Linked DNA regions of Homo sapiens: region 2 is linked to region 1. Evidence: fine-mapped expression QTL. A gene starts in region 1. The other region holds a variant in brackets. All regions are shown on one strand. Distances are from middle to middle.

Evidence for each region.
Region 2: its variant is fine-mapped to the expression of FRMD4A in whole blood (TOPMed, PIP above 0.99).

What each region holds. Positions count from the first base shown.
Region 1 is chr10:14,326,950-14,338,037 of GRCh38, reverse strand. It overlaps FRMD4A (FERM domain containing 4A), which reads left to right and starts at 7,114. Exons shown (of 25, transcript NM_018027.5): 1 at 7,114-7,441; 2 at 7,855-7,980. The coding sequence starts at 7,936.
Region 2 is chr10:13,700,848-13,711,935 of GRCh38, reverse strand. It overlaps FRMD4A (FERM domain containing 4A), which reads left to right. Exons shown (of 25, transcript NM_018027.5): 13 at 4,823-4,899; 14 at 10,458-10,596. It overlaps LOC124902379 (a long non-coding RNA gene), which reads right to left and starts at 4,370. Exons shown (of 2, transcript XR_007062061.1): 1 at 4,284-4,370; 2 at 3,526-4,181. LOC105376426 (a long non-coding RNA gene) reads right to left here and starts at 1,448. Exons shown (of 4, transcript XR_001747371.2): 1 at 1,282-1,448; 2 at 1-14. RefSeq lists enhancers at 1-232, 4,031-4,090, 4,161-4,210, 4,241-4,290, 3,699-4,434. The variant C/G (reference allele first, on the strand shown) is at 4,781.

The DNA of each region.
Region 1 (11,088 bases):
CATTTCCTTTTATTTGTTGTTGCTATATAAAAACACAATAGATTTTTGAATTGACCTTGCATCCTTCAACTTTGCCAAACTTGCTTATTAGCATTTAATAGATTCCATCGGGTTTTTTATATGAAAGATCATATTGGCTATGACTATAGACAGTTTTACTTTCTTTTTCAATCTGGATAGCTTTTATCTTCATTTCTTGGCTTACTGCAATGTCTAGAATTTCCAGTGTAATGTTGAGGAAAGGTGCTGAGAATGGTCACCCTTGCCTTGTTTCTGATTTTAGGGGAAAAACATTCAATCTTTTGCATTAATTATGCAGACAGCTATACATTTTTGTACATGCTTATCAGATTAAGGAAGTTCCCTTCTACTCCATGTTTGCTGAATTTTTTTAAAAAAGATCAGGAATAGATGTTGCATTTTATCAAATGCTTTTTATTCATCCATTCAGCTAATCACATGGTTTTTCTTTTTTAGTTAGTTAATATAGTAAATTACACTGACTGCTTTTAGAATAATAAACTAACCTTGCAATCCTGGAATATGGACTGGTTGGCCACAGTGCATTATCTTTTTAATATACTGTTGGATTCTATGTGGTGTCATTTTGTTTAAAATTTTTGCATTCTTGCTTATGAGGGACAAGGATCTGTTGCTTTCTTTTCTTTTATTGTCTTTGATTTTGATAACAGGGTAGTATTGGTGTCACAAAAATGAGTTCGTAAGTATTGACTCCTCTTCAGTGTTCCCAAAGAATGTATGTAAATTTGGTATAATCTTCCTTAAATCTTTGCTAGGATCCACCAGTAAATCTATCCGGGCCTGGGGTTTTCTTTGTGAGAATTTTTACTTCTTTTCAAATTGGTTTGCCTTTTATTTACTTTGTGGGTCTAAAATAATCTTTATTTGGCTTTCATTTTTGAAAGATAGTTTTGTAGGTATAGAAATTTATACTGATAATTTTTCTTTAAATTTTTAGAAGAACGCTGCTCTACTGGATTCTTCTTTGCATTGTTTCCAAAAAAGAAATCTACTGTTACCCTTATCTTTGTCCCTGTGTACGTGATATATGTTTTTCCTCTCTGGTTGCTTCCAAAATATTCTCTTTATCACTGATATTGAGCAATTTGATTATGAAGTGCCTTGGTGTAGTTTTCTTCATGTTTCTAATGCTTAGAATTTGTTCAGCATATAATCTGTGAACATGTTGGCTATTATTTCTTCAACTCAATTTTCTGTGTGTCTCTTTTTTCAAGGATACAAATGATATATCTATCAGGCTACTTGAAGATGTCCTATAGCTGACTGATGCTTATTTTGTTCTTCGAATTTTTAAATATTTTCCATGTTTCTAATTAACTTTTTGAATATATTGAATACAATATATTCAAAATTGTTTTAATAATTAATGTTATTTAAACAATAATAATTGTTTTAATATTTTCTGCTGACTCTAACATCTATGTTCATTCTGGATGATTTTGATTGATTTGTTTTCTATTTAGTGACCATATCTTCCTACTTTCTTCGTACATGGTAATTTTTATCAGATGACATTCTAGTTTATAAATCTACATGTAAATTATACACAATGTAAATTTACATTATAGATTTAACCTCATTGAGAGTTGGATATTTTTGTAATTTTATAAATGTTCTTTAAGTTTGTTTGGAATCCAGTTAAGTTACGTGGAAATAGTTTAATCCTTTTGGGTCTTACTTTTCAGAATGGTTAGGCAGATTCAGGACAGTGATCAATCTATGACCAATTATTTCTCACTGTTGAGGCAAGAGCCATCTGAGTGTTCTAATAATGTATTAGGAATTATGAAGTTCTCCAGTCTGGCGGATGTGAGCAGACACTGTTCTGGCCCTGGGTGAGCACTGGTCACCATTCTTTCCAATCTTTTTATGTGGTTCTTTCCCCAGCCTTGAGTGGCTTCCCCACATGTATGTGGTGATCAGCACTCAACTGAGTGCTCATGGGGACTCTTTGAAGATCTCAGAAGTTCTCTTTCTCTTTACACCTGTCTTCTCTTTGGTGCTCTGTCTTGTGAACTGTGTTCATCCCAATCTTTCCTGACTCTCAGCTCTGTCTCCATGACTCTGGAGAACACTTGATTCCACGTAGCTCCACTCTCGGTTCCGTAGCCTGGAAATACTCTTGATTCAATAACCTGGGACAATTGTAAGGCTTCTCTAATTTGTTTCTTATCTTTCATGGATCACTGGCATTTGTTGTCTTATGTCCATTAACTTGAAAAGTATTGTTCCGTATATTTTACATTTTTTGTTTGTTTCATGTGAAGTGTAGACTTGCTCCCTCTAATTCCATCTTGGATAGAAGCAGGAGTTCTTCACATATTCTTAAAATACAAATATTTACATGGTTGCAATTAGAGAATATGTCTCATATTACTTGCAAATAAACATATCTCAGACATTTGCAATACTTCTAAATAGTTTCATAATTGCCATTTTAATAGCTGCAAAATATTTCACAGTGTGCCAAATCTACTTGAGCACAGTGTATACATTAATGAGTGATTTATGTCCCATCTCTTACTAAAAATGAATTTCAGATGGCTTACTGACAAAAAGGCCTACTCAATAAGAGTAATAGAGTATGCATTAGAAGGAAAAATAAGATTGAAAGAAAAGAAGGAAGTAATAATGCCAGTTATGATAGTATCTGCTGTCATTGAAAGTAAAATTAGATTTTGGGCATTCTGGAAGTCCAGTGTGCCAAGTGTGATTAGGTACACTATTCTCATTATCAGAATTAAAAGGGGACCAAAAGAGAACTCACAGTTATTGAATGTCTACTATGTGCAACTTAAGAAAATCTCTAATAAATAATACTTTCTTTGAGTCTCACCTCACCCTTGTAATTCTTGCTCGGGATCCTAGAGAAAATGACAGAATAAGCCTTCAGATTCCTGAGAGTAAAATGGCCTGGCAGGTGTTCTGGGGCCAAAGCCACCCACACCACAGGCTCTTTCAGGATAATGACATTTTCCTTTGTACTAGATTCTGAGAGGAATTTCTCACCTGGGGCAACTTATATAGATGGCAGTGGGTGGTCTCATGGCCAATGTCTGAACAACAGCTTCACGCTAAATACAGAAGAGTATTTGTTTGTTTGTTTTGAGATACAGTCTCACTCTGTGTCCCAGGCTGGAGTGCATTGGTGCAAACTTGGCTCACTGCAACCTCCACCTCCCACCTTCCTCCAAAGGATTCTCCTGCCTCAGCTTCCCAAGTAGGTGGGACTCCAGGCACGTGCTACCATGCCCAGCTAATTTTTGTATTTTTGGTAGGGAAGGGGTTTCGCCATGTTGGCTAGGCTGGTTTCAAACTCCTGACCTCAGGTGATCCACCCACCTCAGCCGCCCAAAGTGCTGGGATCACAGGCATGAGCCACTGCACCTGGCCCAGAAGAGGTTTATGAAGAGCTGTTTTTTGCGATGGGTGTGACATTGAACTATGCTTCATTTGAGGAGTTTTTAAAGGAGGATACATTGAAATGGATTTCATATATATATAGCTTTCTTGGGAGGTAAGATTAACCAAGAATCGAGTTTAGTGACTCAGAGGATGGGATTGCTGTCCCCACACCTTCTTCCTTCTGTGACCTTGAACTAGTTCTTGAAAGGACCTGGATAGCTCATATTCCACTGCTTTTTGATGAGGGCCTATTTAATATGAATTAACTTCTCTTCCTCACAAGCTGCTCGATAACCCCTTGCAGTTCGATTTCTGTGTCCGAAACTGTACTGAAACACCCTTCCACCCCACCCAGGCATCTTTGTGGAATGACCATTGCCACTCGAATTTGGGAGCTCTCTTCTCCTTTTCCTCCTTTGACAACTCCTTCTCCATCAGCCTGTGACCTGTCCTCACAAACTCCCCATGTCCTATCCACTCCCTGAGGTCTTGCCATTGCCTCTTCCTCTTTGCGCTTTACATTTTGATATCTCCATTGGTGCCTGATTTAATCTTATTGAGCATGGGCTGCTGTTTGAGCTCGATGCTTGGAGCTGTAGAAGTAAACAGAGAAGAGCAATGCTCAGTTCCGAAATTAGTTTGTTCCTCTCTAGTAGGGGGATACTAGAGAAAAGCAAATCACTGCCAATTTTTTTAAAGAAGGAATTTAAAAGTTGTACAAACAAAGCAACTATGAATGCCCAAATAGAGGAATTGGGAAGAATTTCATGAAGTATGCAACTTTTGACACTGAATGTTGTGTGAACGTATATGCTGTTACCAGACTCAGTGTATGTGTTTCCCAGATTTACTTGGCTCCTCCTGTCTTCCCTGGGCAAATTGAGCCACTTGCTCATTGGGAATCCCAGGTGCTGCCATTGTCATTTCAATTCCTGGCACTGCTAGCTGTCCTAGCCTCCCAGGACAGAACAGGGAGGGTTTCCATCCCACACACTGAGGCAGGAGCCTCACCACCCCAGGGCCCAGGTCCTGTCTGACTGACTCACAGAGGCTATGGTTTCTTCCTTATCTTCTGGGCTCAGATGCAATGCCTTTCATGCCTACCTGCGGGAGTTGGTAACATAACCCTGAAGCGCAAGAGGGTTAATGTCTGATGGAATCAATTTGACCAAAAAGAGTCAACTAATGGACAGCACTAGGCTGTTAGCTCCCTCTCCCTTCGTCTCCTTGATGGGTTATGCCAAAAACTGGAAGTTCCATACCTGTCTGGAAGCTCTTCCTCAGGACTGAGTAGCTGTCCTATGCCCACTTTGGTCAACCCCACCTTGTACCTGCTCTCATTCCATCCCTGCCTCACCTTCCCCACACCCCCACTCTTGCCACCCTGAAATTGCACCTCCCAATGATGTCTTCTTGCAGAAGATTTGCTGCAGGCTATTTTCCAGAAAATCTGGGCTGCAATTCAAGCAGACAGGGGATGAGGCTTTCCAGGCAAAGGAGCCATGAGTGAAGTGCTGAGAGAGGAAGGCGGGTGTTCTGGGGGCCAACGTCAAGGGCTGACACAAAATCTCTCAGGCCGGCCTCTGCAACCTAAGGATGTCCCAGACTGTCCCATACCTGAGGCTGCTCCTGCCTGTCTCTCCTCAGGGTTTGTCTTTTCTCTGCCCATATCCACCAGTTGCAATAGCTCCAATATTAACGTTTTTTCTTAGCTTTGGTTATTTTCCAAACACATAGTCCATGTAGAATCAGAAAGCAAATGTCCTGAAAAAGATGTTCTGCTGTTCCTGAAGTTCCAGTGCAAAAGCTACAAAAAAAAGAAATGGTAAGCCCTCCCTACTCTGTGCTATCCAAACTATTTGGGATTTTTTTTTTTGCATTTCTTACATATTATCTTGTATCATTAATGATTCTACCAGATAAAAAGTTCCTTGAGGGCAGAGGTACAAAGTCGGCATTCTGCAAATATCAGTTGAATACATTTAGAAATCCATCTGAAAAGTTAGGATAAGGTCCCTTAAATCACTATTATAGACCTGTTCCTTAAATCATTGTTATTATTTTTCAAATGTGACTATACATATTATTTTGAATAGTATTGCAATCCACCAGCACAGTCAGAATGTCCTGACAGTTCTGTGCAAGGCCACATGCATGCGACTCAAGTCATGCTTTGAATCTCCAGGCACCTGCTGGCAAGGAGGGTTGCTCTGGTGTTCCGGGGATCAGTAACATGAGACTCCATCCACACACTGTGGAATCAAGGTTCAAGCTCATTGGGCCACTATAGGAAAAACAAAATGGGAGAAAATTTTTCACTCACTTATTTTATTTTGTTTTATTCTTTTCTTTTCTTTTTTTTTTTATTTTGAGACAGAGCCTTGCTCTGTTGCCCAGGCTGGAGTGCAGTGGTGCGATCTCACCACAGTGCAACCTCTACCTCCCAGGTTCAAACGATTCTCCTGTCTCAGTATCCCAAGTATCTAGGAACACGGGTGCCCACCGCACCCGGCTAATTTTTGTGTTTTTCATAGAACAGGGTTTTGCCATGTTGACCAGGCTGGTCTTGAACTCTTGACCAGGCTGGTCTTGAACTCTTGACCATAGGTGATCTGCCCACGTCAGCCTCCCAAAGTACTGGGGCTACAGGCGTGAGCCATTGCACCCAGCCTTCACTCATTTATTGAATATATTTTAGTACTTACTCTGTGCTAAGCACTGTGATGAGCAAATACTTTTTATTTTTAAATTTTTTTAGAGACAGAGTCTTGCTCTGTCCCCCAGGCTGGATTGCAGGAGTGCAGTCATAGCTCCCTTCAGCCTTAAACTCCTGGACTGAACTGATCCTCCCACCTCAGCCTCCCAAGTAGCTGAGACTCTAGGCACACACTACCATGCTTGGCTAATTCTTTTATTTCTATTTTTCTTTTTTTTTTTTTTTTTTGTAGAGATGAAGTCTTGCTATGTTGCCTAGGCTCACCCTGAATTTTGGGTCTCAAGCTATCTTCCTGCCTCAACCCCCAGAAGTGCTGGGAATGCAGGTGTGAGCTCCCATACCTGGCCCAAATCAATAGTTTTAAAAGTATAAGTAATAAAGGAACAGTAGCTATGCTCGTGCACAGGAACATGAAAGGTCATTAATTTCTTCCCCCTAGTTTCTTATTTCGAAAACTGTTCTCTATGTTTCTACATTTCACACTGTCTAGTTAATTTTCAGGATTTTTTGGAGCCATTACAGGAGGTGAGTAAAGGAAGAAATCAGAAAAGGACATACTAGAAGTATCAGGAATAACCATTTTTAGTTGAATACATGGACTCCAGAAGAAGATACAAGCTTGACAGTGCTCATGAAAAGATATCTAATTTTCTTAAGTCTTTGACTCTGGAAAGCCCTTTGAGCTACCCATTATATAACAAGATTCGGCAGGTTTTTTCTTTCTCCCTTCATTGACATCTTCCGGGGAAAATGCTGCATGATATGATTTTCAAGGCTAACTTGCCTTTTCCTGTTAAGCAGTGTCCCTTGTGACAAATTCACCTCCTATGCCTCCCTGAACTAGGGAGGCTCCTTCAAAATTCCTAACAGGCAGCCCTGTGGAGAGATGGGAGGGAAGGGATGGGAGGGAGGAAGGGCGGGAGGAAGGGAGGGAGAGAGAGGTAGAGTGTGTCTGTATGCGGCGTACATGTGGTACAGCCAGGGAGATCAGAACGCTCACAGAACAGGCAGTGCAATTCCATGTTCCTCTTAAGTATGTTAGCCCTACCGGGAGCTGAGCTGGCCAGTCTACTTGGAGAGGAAAAGTAGATCTGGGGAAGGTGGAAGGGTCAGTTCCTAAGTGACTTCCTCCTCGGGGATGGTAAGGGCATTTGCTGATCTCCAGTGACTGCCTGGTGCCTCATGGTCAGACTCGGCTGTCTCACTCCCAGATATCTGATTTTGCAAAAAGGGACACACCTATCTGCAGCAAAGAAGACACTGACCAGATTGCGAGCGGTATGTTGTGACATTCAGCATGTTTATGCAGCAGAATTGCTGAGAGATGCAGAGAGAGGGGGTGGCTCGGGCTGCTTGATTTATCTGCAATAGGGAATGTTTTATTTTAATTGTCAGTTAAAGGAAGAATTGCTGCCAGGGCGAAGGTAGCAGTTAAACATTCCGTGTTCTAAGCTTTCACGTTTGTGTTTGATGCGGTCTCCCTGTCTGTGCCGCTTTGCGAAGCTAGGGAGGGCTCACTTTTAAATAACCTGCAGCTTCCTATTTTCCTTCTTCTTTTTTTTTTTTTCCTCCCTAAGCACAGTTCCCACCCTGTCTTCCCTGACCTCCTCCCCACCCTGTGTGAAAGGTGGCCTATCTTCCCCTTGAGCCTTTTGCTCCCTAAGTCTGGATTTTGGCTGCTTTTTCTGCAGGTGCTTTTGGATGCTCTGTAGCCACCCGGGGCCCAGGAGGACTGACTCGGCAGCAGGATTCGTGCATGGGAATCGGAGACCATGGCAGTGCAGCTGGTGCCCGACTCAGCTCTCGGCCTGCTGATGGTGAGTGTTCAGACAGGAGGTGGGGCCCGGGCAGCGTCCACTCCAGCCTCCCCTGCACCGTGGGCTGCTGCTGCCGCTGCAGTGGCTGCAGACATGTTCAACATTGCTCCGCTTTATCCCGCAGGCTCTTTGGAAATGCTTTCTTGGGTCAGAGTATCAGCATGACAAAGCACTTGCAGGGAAAAGAAGCTGTAGATTTGCCATTTCAGAAACTTGTTGCTGAATGCTATTTTGAGAGCTGTGCTTGCAAACAGGTGCTAAGAGCCCCTCGAAATAGATTGCTAGGATGCCTCCTCCAGCTCCCAGCATCCTTTCCCCCTTGTCTTTTGCATCTAAATTGAGCTGATTGTGTTTGTTTTTGGATATCTTCTCAGGGCAACTGTGGAATCTGTTGCCCATGGGGTGACAGAATGGGGTCTTCTTTCTAGGCGCCCATATATCTGCTCATACTTTCCTGTAGAGGTGGTGGAGGAGGTTCACTGTGGCTTCAGTGATGCTTGGGCTACTGAGTTGGGAGCAGCTTGTTTCCTATCTACCATTGATGGCCAACCTTGGCAGGACTTGTCCAGGCATTTATCTGTGTGTGAGCAGCTGACTCACCTTATGCCCCTCTGGAATTTTCACCATATTAAGAAAGCCCTAGCTCTTACCATATTAAAGCACACAAGGACATGGGCACTGTCTTGTTCCAACCCAATTGGCTTTTGGCTTGACACTAGGTTCAGCAGTGGCTTTTGCCATGGTTTTGCATCTCTCTCCTTTCCCAGGGTTCCCACACACCACGGTAATACTGGCTGTTGTCGGAAGTAGCCTGCATCAGGCTTGGCATGGAAATGTTTCCAGCATTTACACAGGAGATTTTATGAACCAAGCATAAGTGCTTCTGTGTATATTGATTTGTGTCTTCGGAATGAGGAGGGGAAATGCAACTTTGCAAGGCCTGATGAGTTTATGGAGGTGACTTGGAAGAGCCGTCAGTGGGAAGCCTGCCCCCTGGGTGGCAAGCCAGGTCATGTTAAAAGGAACAGATATCTTGGTTCTTCGTTGCTCAAAATTCCACTGGGTCCACAGATTTAGTTGAATTGCCTGAAATCTATCTCATGGGCCTCTGCTGACTTCTCATTTCACTGGGGGAGTAGGACTAGAAGAAATGAAATTGTCAGTTTCCAGAGAAATTACCCATTACCTGACTTCTTTCCCTTACTAATTCTATCGTCTGATGATACTTTATCCTCCATCGTCTACCTGTGGTCAAATAAACTGGATAGGAATTTTCATTCCATCACTGAGTATTCGTGATGATGGCTGGCACTAAAATGCATTATCTATGGGGTCTAGGAGACTTCTGGGAACCTGGGAGCCTGGGTTATATGCTCTGAAATACAGGCACACATATGCACACACACACACACACACACACACACACACACATGCATATGTATATTATATTATCTAGTACACTAACAGAAATAAATCCTGCATCGTGTTAATATAGAGGAGAAAAGTTTTCTTGAAAAATATCTTTAGGGAGAGTTAGACCCGCTTGTCTCAGCCTCCTACTTGGACCTTTCTTCTATACTTAGAAGAAAGATGTGTATCTGCTTTATTCCAAGCCCCTAAGCATGAATCCTTGGTATCCAAATTAAATGAATAGCATCCATTTCTGCTGTTATACACCCCCCCCCCCCACCCACACACACACACAGGCTCTTCTGGTCCTGGGTCTTCCACATATTATGGCTGCTGTCCTGGTAGTGTCTACATCTCAGACTTCACCTTCCATTTGTCAGTGGCCTCTGCCCTTAGATCTGTCCCTGGCACTCTCCTCCTGCCCGGAAAAAAGGATCGTGTTCTCCTCTCTTGGAAACCAGGGGAAAGAGCTCTTGACACCCTGATGGACCGTTTGATTAAAGAACCCTGGAGTACCATGTGTAATCAAAGTCTGTATACATTTTCTGGTTCATGTTTAGTTCAGGGAAATTTTCCCCTATGGACTTTGGTGCTATTTTTTTTCCTTTTTAAGGGTAAACCCCAAAGTAATTGCTTCCCTGACATCTTGCATGATGCATCTTAAAATTTATAAGCAAGCCGAGGAGGAAAGAAAGGAGGAAAAGAGGCCATTTAGCGGAGTTGCTTTGGCTGTGAGTTCAGGAAGGAAGCTGTAAACATTATTATTTATGAGCTCATTCATCAGCCAATCAGTTGTCAGTATTTATCGCGTGTCTGCTCACTGAGGAAAGTAGCCTGGCATAACAGCAAGAGCCAGAGCTCATAAACACACAGTCTGTGGGAGGCTGATACCAGGTTGGTGGATTGCAGTTCTGATTTTGTGCTATGGAGTCATCGGGGCTAAGGGGTAGGTGGGGAGATGATCTGGCCACACCCCTTGCTTTTGGATAAGGAGACACCCAGAGGTTACATTCAGCTTAGATGCTAAATGCTTCAGGGCAGAGCATGTTTAATTGGTTACAGAAGCGGCCACAGAGTCTGGAGGGTTGGACAGCCCTGTGCTCCATTCTAGCCTTGCCACTCATTGAGTGATCCTGGGAATGTCCCTTCCTTTCTCTGCCTTGGTGATGCCATTTGCTAACTGAGAGTGCTCTCTGATGTCTAGGTTCCCTTCCATTCTGTTAAACACAATTTAAGATCTCTAAGAAACAGTGTACAGATGAAGTTCCAGGATAGCCAATTCGAGGGCTTTATTTAGCGTTATGTCTCTATTTCCAACCTTGCACATGAGCAGTATTGCTATGAAAATGGTGGAGTGTGTTCCCACTCTGGCTTTTATGCTAGGGCAGATATGTTTCATATTATTAGCTGACACGGATGATCATTAGTGTTCATTCATACTCTGCCATCAGGAGTCTACCCCACAGGAACCTAAGTTGGTCCATTGGACAAAAGCCAATGACTTTTGAACAGTGTCTCAGAGGCCTTTTCAAGCTAGGGCTGGGTTGCGGTCAGCTGGGAGGGGTCCCAGGTGGTAAGCATGCCTGGACCATCTTGAGGTGGGAGGACCTCACTGATTCTTTCAACGGACAGCTCACAGAGGGCAGTGATGCCTCTCCACACAGGACAGAGCCACTCATATGACCACGGAAGGGGGGA
Region 2 (11,088 bases), 630 kb after region 1:
TAATTGGTGGACTCCTGGGGAAAGCAACATAGTTAGAGGTTAGAGTAATGGACCAGGTGCCCTTGACTTCTATTTCTGGTTCCTTCACTTACTTGCTGTGTGGCCTTAGGCAGTTTTCCTTAATTTCTCTGGGCCTTGTTTCACCCAAGAAGTAAATTTCCCACTTGATCTTCTTGAGGGATGCCAAAAGATCAAAGGAACGATGTTTGCAGGGCTTTTTAAAGATGCTTAAGTGACGTGCACTAGAAACCCCTTGATTTAATAGGTATGAATTAATACATTCTTTGATTATTGGTAGAACTAAGTATTTTAGCTTTTTAATTAGCTCCTTGGATATAATTGGCCATAGGCGTTACACAAATCCCTAAGGGAACCGGCCCAGTCATCCTGATGATCATTATGGGTGCCTGCTGTGTTTTTATGCGGAGAGGCAGAGTGTGTTGGCAGCTTTACATGGTGGTGGGTTATGACGGCTGCACTGAGCCAGCGCAAGCTCGGGAGGCTCCCCTGAGGTGGCGCAGACCATCGGGGCTGCCCCGAAACCAGCTCAGTCAGAGCCCACCTTACCCTGTTTACAAAGGGGAGGCAAGGTGGAGCATCTCCTGTTTGTTGATTTGATTGTTGTGTTTGCTCTGCCAGCCTCAGAGTGAGGTATTTAACAGGCAGGACTTCTAAGCCTCAAGGGCCCATGGGCAGAAATGCCCCAGACCCCATGAAGAAAATGATGCTTTTCCAGCAAGCTGCACCCCGGCCCTGGGCAAGGGGCAGCTGCTTCCACCCTCCTGGTCCCTACTGCCTTCATATTCCTGCTCCCTAGCTCACCCCCTCCCTCCTAAGTGAAGAGAAGTCAGATCAGGCTACTGTTCTGACATGCACACCTTCTCTTCTGTTCCTGGGACCCTTTTGTTTTTGTGTTTGTTTTAAGAAGGAGCCTTGCTGTGTCGCCCAGGCTGGAGTACAGTGGCATGATCCTGGCTCACTGCAACCTCTGCCTCCCGGGTTCTAGTGATTCTCTTGTCTCAGCCTCCCAAGTAGCTGGGACTACAGGTGCCCACCACTACACCCAGCTAAATTTTGTATTTTTCGCAGAGACGGAGTTTTGCTATGTTGGCCCAGGCTGGTCTCAAGCTCCTGACCTCAAGTGATCTGCCCACCTCAGCCTCCCAAAGTGCTGGGATTCCAGGCATGAGCCACCATACCCAGCCCATTCCTGGGCCCTTCTAATGTCTCAACGCAACAATCTGATCCTGAAAACCACCCATCCCTTCACTTTACTCTTACCCTTCCTTCCCAGGATTGCATTTGCAAAACAAAAATTCATGCTTAAAGCAAGCATCAGGGGGAATCCATTGTTCTGCACCCTGCCACAAAAATGTCTAGTGCATCATCCCGGGGATAGGCCTGGGAGCCGGGACTCCATGGTTCGCAGCCAAGGGCAGAAGCTGGAGGCAGGGCCTTCCCACGGGCAGCTACAGCAGCCACAGACGGGGCCATGCAGCAGAGTCCAGATGGTTTTGTTCGGGCTCTTTGGCAGACGCGCAGTTCTCCACGCTGAACTGCATCAGGGAGCACTTAAAGCAAAGCTTGGTTTGTGTTTTATTTTGCATGGAATGGGGGAGACAGGAGTTGCCAGGGAAACAACCCCTCGGAGCATTCTGCTCTGGGGTTCTTCATCGGGTGGGGAGGGGGGCTTCCCATGAAAGGCACAGGGGTTTTCTCAAGCGTGCTCACACCTGGTTCTGCTTTCTTTCCTTCTCTTGGAGGGCTTGAGGGTTCCACCTCCCAGGCCTGCCCATTAGGCTGGCAGGCACCTTACCCCACAGAGCCTGCCAGCACCAGTACATGCCAGGACCTAAGGCCAGGATCAAGTCCACAATGAGCAGGGCCCAGTGCAAAATGGAAATGCAGGGCCCCTTGATCAAACCCATTAGGTGGGTTCAGTGTACACTGCTCAGGGGATGGGCACACCAAAATCTCATAAATCACCACTAAGGAACTAATTAACCAAATACCGCCTGTTCCCCAAAAACCTATGGAAATTAATTTTTTAAAAAGCGTATAGCAACAAGACAAAAAAAAAGAATAAAGATATAAAGAAAGAAAAAAAAACCTGTTAGGAATTTCAAGATATCAACAGCAGAGCAGGAAATCAAGCCAAGGACCTTCTGAGCAAAGGGCCCTCAGGTCGCACACCCAGAAGGCCGATCCTGTTCAAGACTTCACTTTGCCTGAGCAAGGCGGGTGCAGGATAGCGGCTGAGGGACCGCCGTGGTATGCAGCCAACAGGACCCTTTCATTGAAGTACCATCCACATCCCTTACGTGAGAGGAGGGGAGAGGCACTGGGAGAAAAATTCTCTGTATTTAAGGATTTGCAGCACACACATATTTTTTTTTTTAAATCCAAAACTCAGGGCTTGAGTTAGGAAATCTAAGAAAAGAATGATTCTGGTTGTTCTGGAGTTACTCTCTTTTAATCTGCAAGGATTTGGGAGAAGTAAGAGCATTTGGGATTCATAGTAAGATCTAAGGTCACTTTGTGCCGGTACTGTGCTACGATCTGTGGCTGCTGAGATCTACCTTAGAGGGGTTATTTTTGCCATTTTACAGAGGGGAAAACTGAGGCTAAAGGAAATGCTGTAACTTGTGTCAGGTCCAGCAGCTTAGAGCCTGAGTTGGGTGCGGTGGCTCACGCCTGTAATCCCAAAATTTTGGGAGGCCGAGGCGGGCAGATCACTTGAGCCCAGGAGTTGGAGACCAGCCTGCCCAACATGGCAAAACCCCATCTCTACTAAAAAATACAAAAATTATCCAGGTGTGGTGGCATAGTCCTGTAATCCCAGCTACTTGGAAGGTTGAGGCACAAGAATCGCTTGAACCCGAGAGGCAGAGGTTGCAGTGAGCCGAGATCGTGACACTGCACTCCAGCCTGGGGGACACAGTGAGAGTCTGTCTCAGAAAAAAAAAGTAGTGGAGCTTGGATTCAAACAGATGTAGTCAGACCACAAAGCCTGCCTGCCTGACCGCTTTGCTCAGTGTACTGCCCCCAGGCTATGAGGCCAATGTCGTGGAACCTGTTCATTCTGGTATTTTTGTAGCTCTGGCTAAGTTCAGGTGGAATGTCGCTGAATATATAATACCTGGGGACCAGAGAGGAAATTTGGGTGTTTTAATGGAAGGATTTATAGTGGCCAAGCATCAGACAGGACCATGAGACCTGGGTCTGTGTATTTTAGTAATAGACTCCGCTAAGGCGCTGTTGAATCTCTGACACAAAGCTGTCAGCCAACATAGAGCTTTGGGCCATTTGCTTTCCTTGCAGTGTCTCTCCACCCACCTGGAGTTGATGCTTAACAAGAAAGAAAAATACAATTTCCTTGGGCTTCAGAGTGAAATGCACTCTGAGCCGGGGACAAAAGAGGCAACTCTGTAATAAGAGATAATAGATATTCTCCTTCCCAGTACTTAACGCAGACAAAATAATTGTAAAATTCCAGAGAGCAGATTGTGAGGATAAAAGAATGTGGCCATTCCAGAAGCAGTTTTTATTCCAGCCCAGTTTTATATGGGGTGCTAGGTCCACTAGCCAACCATTGACTAGCAGTGTCCCCAGCCTGGGAAGACAGGGTGGGTCAGATACAGGAAATGGCCATCACGTCTCTAAGGTGGGCAGAACATGAGCAGGTCAGAGAGGGTCAGGAGCCTGAGGTCCGAGGACTCTGGGGTAAGACCCTGAAAAGCATTTAACTCAGTGGCCAGAGAAAGGGGGGAGCCCAGGGAAGCTGTTCCCCGCAGAAAGACAAGAACAAGATTCCTACTTTACCCCTTCTTTCCGCAAAATAAACCGAAATTCCCAGTATGTGGAAGGTGATGCAGTAACCAGCAAATATTAATGCAAATGTGTGTGCACACAAGTTGAACCTCCTGTGATATTTCCCAGAGGGTTAAAGTAACTTTCTTTTTCATCCAATGAAAGGAACCCCGTTCCTGGAGCAATTGGATGCAGCCCTAATTACTTCCAAACATTACAGTCAGCTTCTCAGTTAACGAGCTCACTGGTCCGAAGGAGGAATGACCGCCAGGGCCCCTTCATTCCACTTCTCACCCTCCCTGGCCAAGCTTGAGGGAGAGACTCTGGCCGCAGCGTCCTTCCGGGCGACAGAACTCTTGGTTTTCTTTGTGCTGCAGCAAGAAGAATGGGCTTGACAGGCTCACACTGTGATCTTGAGTTGCCTGCCCCCGAAATAAGGTCCCAGCCTCCTCCGCCCTTTGCAAGGCTCTTACACATTAGTGAGCAGGAAGTGGAGTCCCGATGGGAGGCTGGGAATTTGAACGCCTTCCCATTTCAGCACTGGAGGGGAGGAAGCTCAGTTCAGCACTCCACGCAGATGGCTACCGCTCCCTCCTGAGCGCTCGCTCCTCTCGCTCCTCTCCCCTCACCCGCCGCCTTCCCTGCTGGGTCCCTCTCCCCGGTCTCCACCTCTCCTCCCTCTCCTGGAAGGGAAAAGTCTGCCAAGCTGGGGACTGCCACGACCAAACCAACAAAGGCCGACCGAAGGCGGAGAACTTGAAAAGAACTTGTTTTGTTCCAGTTAAGGAACCTGCAGGAAAATCCACACCCACATTGCCTGGTTTTGAACTGGAGAGCTGCGTGTGTGTGTGTATGTGTGTGTGTGTGTCAAGCAAGAGGCGGAGGAGGCACAGACTACGGTCTCTGTTTTGATAAGGAAACTGCCAGCTGTCGAAAGTTAACCAGCAGAGAGGGGAAGATGGCCCAGGAG[C/G]CAGCCCCTCCTGAGTTTTAAACTACACTGTTTTCTGTCCAGATATTCCAATGGAGACAGTTGGAAAACCTGTACTTCAGAGAAAAGAAGTTTTCCGTGGAAGTTCATGACCCACGCAGGTAAGCTTGAAAAGTCCTTTTCTTGCGGGATGGCGTGGCTCTCGGCCGGGCGTGTTATGGATATTATTTTGGGGCTGTCGTTGTTCATGGTCAGTTTGGAGCAGGGAGCGAGGGTGGGGGCTCCTGGGGAATGGAGCTCAAATCAGACAGTGAAACTTTCTTTTCAATTACATGTGTTGATAAATGCAGTGGGTTCGCACGTGTGTGTAAGTAGCAATCCCCTGACTGTCTCATCTGGCCACATGTGTCCCTGGCTCGTGTGTGTGTGTGTGTGTGTGTGTGTGTGTCAGTGTATGTGTTTGTCTTACCTGCCGGGGCACTGGAAGGAAGCTTTATAGCACTTTGTAACACACACCAGTAAGTCCCCATAGGAAACTTTTGCTATAGAAGAGTCTGAAGAATCCCTCATTAGAGCTTCTAAAAGTATTTCAGGCAGGACGGTCAATGCGAAAATGAATTTGTCACCAAAGCAGTTGTGCTACGTTGTTTTATTCCAGGAGCTGTAATTTTAGGATGTTAGTATTGTGGGTGGATGTGAAAGAAATGAAATTATTTTTCCCTCCACCCAAAATCGTACCCCAGAGAGCACCAGGGTTGTAAAAAGTCCCTGTACTCTTAAGTCAGATGCAAGACAGTGGGGCCCCAGGTTGGAATGCAGGGAGCCCCAGGTGGCTGGGGTCTGGGCAGCTCATACCCACTGTTTTCCTCTCTTTGTCTGCCGCTGGACCTAAAGTTATATGCATCCCCAAAAACAGCAGCGTAATTCCCTAAAACCAGGCCTGACAACTAAGAAATCACTTTCCATAAGGTCAGAGACATTTACAATAAGAAGGTAGCCCCAGGGAGACAGAAAAAAGATCAGACTCTACAGAGGAGCAAAAGTGGGTTTTAGGCGCTGTTGACGCTCCAGCCCTGGGCTTAGAAGGAGGACTTGGCACCAATTCCAGCTCACACATGGCTTCTGATGCTCAAAACAAGCTGCAGTCCCTCCCCATGAGCTCTGGACAGGAGGGAGATTTGGAGTTACCCCGCCCAGTGAGAGGGCTTGGACCTGTGCAGTAGCCCCTGTTCCTGCAGCCCATGATAACCCGGTAGGAATGAAGCCGTGCTTGCCCTCCAGGGTAATCTGCCTGAAACAGCCACTCCTGTGTAGGGCAAGAGCTTATCTCAGCACCACGGTTACTACAGGAATAGTTAGTGGAGAGCAGCTGAGAGTTTCTGCATCTCCACAGTCAGGTGAAAATGGTAGCCTTTAACAGAAAAATATTTTATCCGGTGTTTCTCAGGGCCCTGCAAGGGGTTTCGCGGCCAGAAGCCCCACTCCATGGAGCACAGATCCATCTGTGCAGGCCAAGTGGGGTGGGCGGGGAGATTTCAAAAATAAGATTCCAGCCAAGAAGAAACTCACTGTTCATTTTCCAGGTGAACTGAATTGGACCAGGTTCTTAGGCATGTAAGAGAGGGGAAATTTAAGTACAGAAAGAGTGAAATGAACTTTGCCACAATGGGTCAGATGCAGAAAGGGGATGCTCCATAGGATAAAAATGAGGGGCTGGGTAATCTAAGGGGCTGAGCGCAGGGAATAGACCCTCCGCCATGCCTGTGCTCTGCTGGGAATTCAGTGAACACCCAGGCACCTTGGACAAATCCTTTAACCACGCACGCATATATCTGCACATGTGTGTTCGTGTTCTCTGTGCGTCTGTCGCCCTATTGGTGAGTACTGCTAAACTCTCTTTACCAAAGCCCAGGGATATAGGAAAGAATCTAGATCTCACACGTGACTATTCAGTGGGCCTGTCGCCTATTAGACAGCAGTGATCAATGTCATGTTTCTTGCGAAGCTTCTGTGTCCTTGTCGGGTGCTGTGGCGGGGAAGGAAGGAAGTCGGAGGCAGGGTCTTCTTCCTTAAAGATCTTCTAGTGTAACTGAGAAGACAGGCAGAAGAAGGAACTTTTATTTTGAGACACGGTCTCATTCTGTCGCCCATGCTGGAATGCAGTGGTGCAATCATAGCTCACTGCAGCCTCCACCTTCCAGGCTCAAGCAATTCTCCCACCTCAGCCTCAGCCTCCCGAGTAGCTGGGACTATAGGTACACACCACCGTACCCAGCTTTTTTTTTTTTTTGGAGAGACTGGGTCTCACAGTGTTGCCCAGGCTGGTCTCAAATTCCCAAGCTCAAGCAATCCTCCCATCTTGGCCTCTCAAAGTGCTGGGATTACAGGCGTGAGCCACTGCCTGGAACCTGGCTGAGAAGAAGGAACTCATGGAGTGTCACAAGAAACAAAGAAACCTGCTCTAGACGACAAGTAGCTAGTATACAGGAGAGGCAGGATTTGAACCTAGGAGGTCTGGCTCCAGAGCTCATGCCCTTTATCTCTATACTGTACAGAAGGGCCAGACGTCGTGGGCCATGAAGGGTGAAGGACAGGGTCACCAGAGGCCTGGCTGGTCAGGAAGGGAGAGGCTTACCAGGAAGGAGAGGTCTGAGTTGGACCTGGAGGGGTAACTAGGATTAAAGCCACGTGGTAGGGCCTCAGGGGGATATAGATGTCAGGTGGGGGCTTCTCAATTAGGATAAACAAATGAGGGAGGGTCTGGCTGGAGGGAAGTGGGAGTTGGAGGAGCCCAGAGGAAGAAGCAGAGCTGTCTCGTCCCAGGCAAACTCGCTCTGAGTACACTGAGTTAGCCTGCAGACAGGCAGGAATGGGGGAGAGGCCCAGGGAGGCCAGAGGTGGAGACCCGGGATGACTTCAGCATTAAAGACACACAAGGAAAGGAAATGGCTTCAGGTCAGTTATTTAGCATGGCAGAGCCAGAGCTATGAGCTGTAAGATCTTTCTTGCACTCAGTTCTCTTTTTCACATCCTAGTGGTGCCTTTTTTCTCTTGTATTGAGAGTTACTATTTCACGTATTCATGAGCCACGTGTGAGTGCGTTACATGCATAGAACATGGAATGATCAAGGCAGGGTACGTGGGGTATCCATGGCCTTGAGTGTTTTTTTGTTTGTTTGTTTGTTTTGTTTTTTGAGACAGAGTCTCACTTTGTCCCCAGGCTGGAATGCAGTGGCGCCATCTCGGCTCACTGCACCCTCCACCTTCCAGGTTCAAGCAATTCTCCTGCCTCAGCCTCCCAAGTAGCTGGGACTACAGGCGTGCGCCACTACACCCAGCTAATTTTTTTATTTTTAGTAGAGATGGGATTTCATCACGTTGGCCAGGATGGTCTCAATCTCTTGACCTCGTGATCCACCCGCCTCAGTGTTTACTATTTTTATGTTGGTATCATTGCAAGTCCTCTCTTCCAGTTACTTTGAAGTGAACCTCGCGGTGCTTTTTAAGTTGAATGTGTCATCCTATTGCTTGTGGCCTTGCTTATTTGAGGTAGGGAAGAGGAATGTGATTGGCCTCACGTTAGTTTGGTGTTCCGGGCTCAGCCCCTCCCCCAAGCCAGGAAGGCAGTCAGAACTGCAGTAATAGGATGGGCAACGCCAGATACGGTCATTTAATGAAGATGTAATCGATGGGAATGATTCAGGGCAGAGGCTGCTTTCTGGGCCGATGGGCTCAGGTGTGATTGCACCATTCCCTGTGGGGCACTGGACAACACTGTGCACTTTCTCCCCCTGGGCATCCTAACTCAATGCTTAGCTTCATTTCTGAGCTTCTCCAGGCTGGGCCAATATTTCACTTCTACGGTTTGGGTAAAATAGGAAGGGCTTGAAGCGAAAGATGAGGAGAGGAGATAAAGTAATGATAGAGCAGGAGAAGAACTCTGAGTATCTGATTTAGATGCTCCGGGGAACTACCCGGACCTGACCAGCCACTTACCTCTTCTGCCCTCCCGGTACCTGAGAAATGGAGGTACCTAGCCTTGCACCACCTTTCAAGATACTGTTCTTGTCTAATTCAGCTTTTCTGGGGGGAAAAAAAAGTCATTCATTTATTTCCAAGAGCAAGAACTGCTATGGAAGCCAAGCTGGGAGCACAGATCCCTGTTTTCTTTTAAATTTAGAGAGACTGGCGAGGGATCTCCCCCTCGCTCTCTCCCTGGCTCCTTTTTTCAATTATTTTCAACTGTGTGCTCTTTCACGCTCTGGCTTTTTTTTTTTTTTTTTTCCTTCACTTTTGTTGGAACCGAAGGGAGAAAAAACCTGTGTGGACTCAGTAACATTAACCACCGGATCTGAATTTCTCCTTAAAAGTGAGGGTGAACAAGACTCCACTTTAAATCTTTAGCACCCCCGACCCCCGCCCAAAGTAAGATATTGCTGGCAGCTTTGTTTTCTTTAAGGGAAAATTAGCCATGAAAAAAAATGTTATTGTTTGTAAGTCCTGATTACCCCCAGGTTTCTTCCAAATTAGATATGTTAGTCTTGAGAACATACATTTTGTTTCTGATGTCCATGTAAAATGCCCCAAATCCCAGCCCACCTTCCTGTCAACTTGTCTCACATGCATGCGCACACACACACACACACACACACACACATGCAAACACACATTCTTAGATTTCATTTGCAAAATAATCTGCCTATCCTATAAAATATACTTCACTAAGAGCATGACCATATAACTCCCCCTAACTCCATGAATGTGGAGATGAACAGTTCCCGTTTTCACTTTTAAAGTCTGATTACTCCATGTAGATTTAAAAATGTATAGACAGGGCCAGGTGCGGTGGCTCATGCCTGTAATCCGAGCACTTTGGGAGGCCGAGGCAGGTGGATCACCTGAGGCCGGGAGTTAGAGACCAGCCTGATGAAACCCTGTCTCTACTAAAAATACAAAAAAGTAGCCCGGAGTGGTGGGGGGCATCTGTCATCCCAGCTACTTAGAAGGCTGAAGCAGGAGAATTGGTTGAACCTGGGAGGTGGAGGTTGCAGTGAGCTGAGATCTTGCCAGCACGCTCCAGCCTGGGTGACAGGGCAAGACTCCATCTGAAAAATATAAATGAAATGTATCGACAGACGTTGGGGGAATTGGGGCTGGGCACATTTCTCTCTGCCTTTCTTCTCCTGATTCTTTATACCCTCCCTGCCCTCTGAATAGATTGGAAATTGATCACCAAATCTTCAAGGAACATTGGGTTAGTTATATAAGAAGTCCCAATTCCCTGGGACGCTGTAGCCTGTGGTGATTAGAAAATAATTTACTCATCCCCACCGTAGGCACATTTCCTGTCTCATAGGGAGCATCATTGAAGGTTTTCCTGTCTGCGAAGTTTGTCTTGGCCCAGTGCCAAGTCCAGGATCGAAAAAGGACCATCCATTGACCTAGAATGACCCATCTTATCCCAGACAAGGCCGAGGCTTGGCCAGATTCTGAACTCTAGGGAGTCAGAAAATCAGAAGGTGGCCTTTGCCCAGCCAATGATGTCTGTAAGCTGTGTGCGCATGTGTGTGTGTGTACGCCTAGGTGTATGTGAGAGCTCATCTATCATCTTTACGCCAGGGCTTCTAGGACGCAGTGGGTTCTCTACAGAAGCTGTTGACTGAGAAATGGTTTCTCTCAACAGAAATGGGATTGAACCTTGTGATTCTTGCTTCCCCAGGGCTTCAGTGACAAGGAGGACGTTTGGGCACAGCGGCATTGCAGTGCACACGTGGTATGCATGTCCGGCATTGATCAAGTCCATCTGGGCTATGGCCATAAGCCAACACCAGTTCTATCTGGACAGAAAGCAGAGTAAGGTGAGTGACCAGACCTCTCACCAAGCCCGGGCCATTGTCTGCCTCTCTTAGTTTAGGAATGAGGATCGGATGGGTGGGGGAGGCGCCATGTCCCTTGCCCGGGTCCATACCTTGCACAGATACAGGCTTGCCTCTTAGGGCTACAGATGGGAGGGATGAGACTAGCTCTTCAAGAGGGCACATTCCATGCATCTTGGTCCAGGGGGCTCTGACCACCATCAGAGCCGCTCAAGCCGCTGACTGCAGCCAGGTAGGCCCCTTTTGAGGAATTCCCACTGTGCTTTTGGCCCTCGGGAGAATCCTCTAGCAGCGTGAAGGCAAGCCCTTTTTGGTGTTTAAACAGTGGTATACTATCTTCCTTTTGAAAAGAAAAAAGGAATCTTTCTCAACGAATAGACACCACCTAACTGTTTAGGGTAATTGCTGTGAAAACCCTCAGGCGGTTCCAACTGCCAACTCCATTTTTTTTTTTTTAATGCAAAACTGGAAACG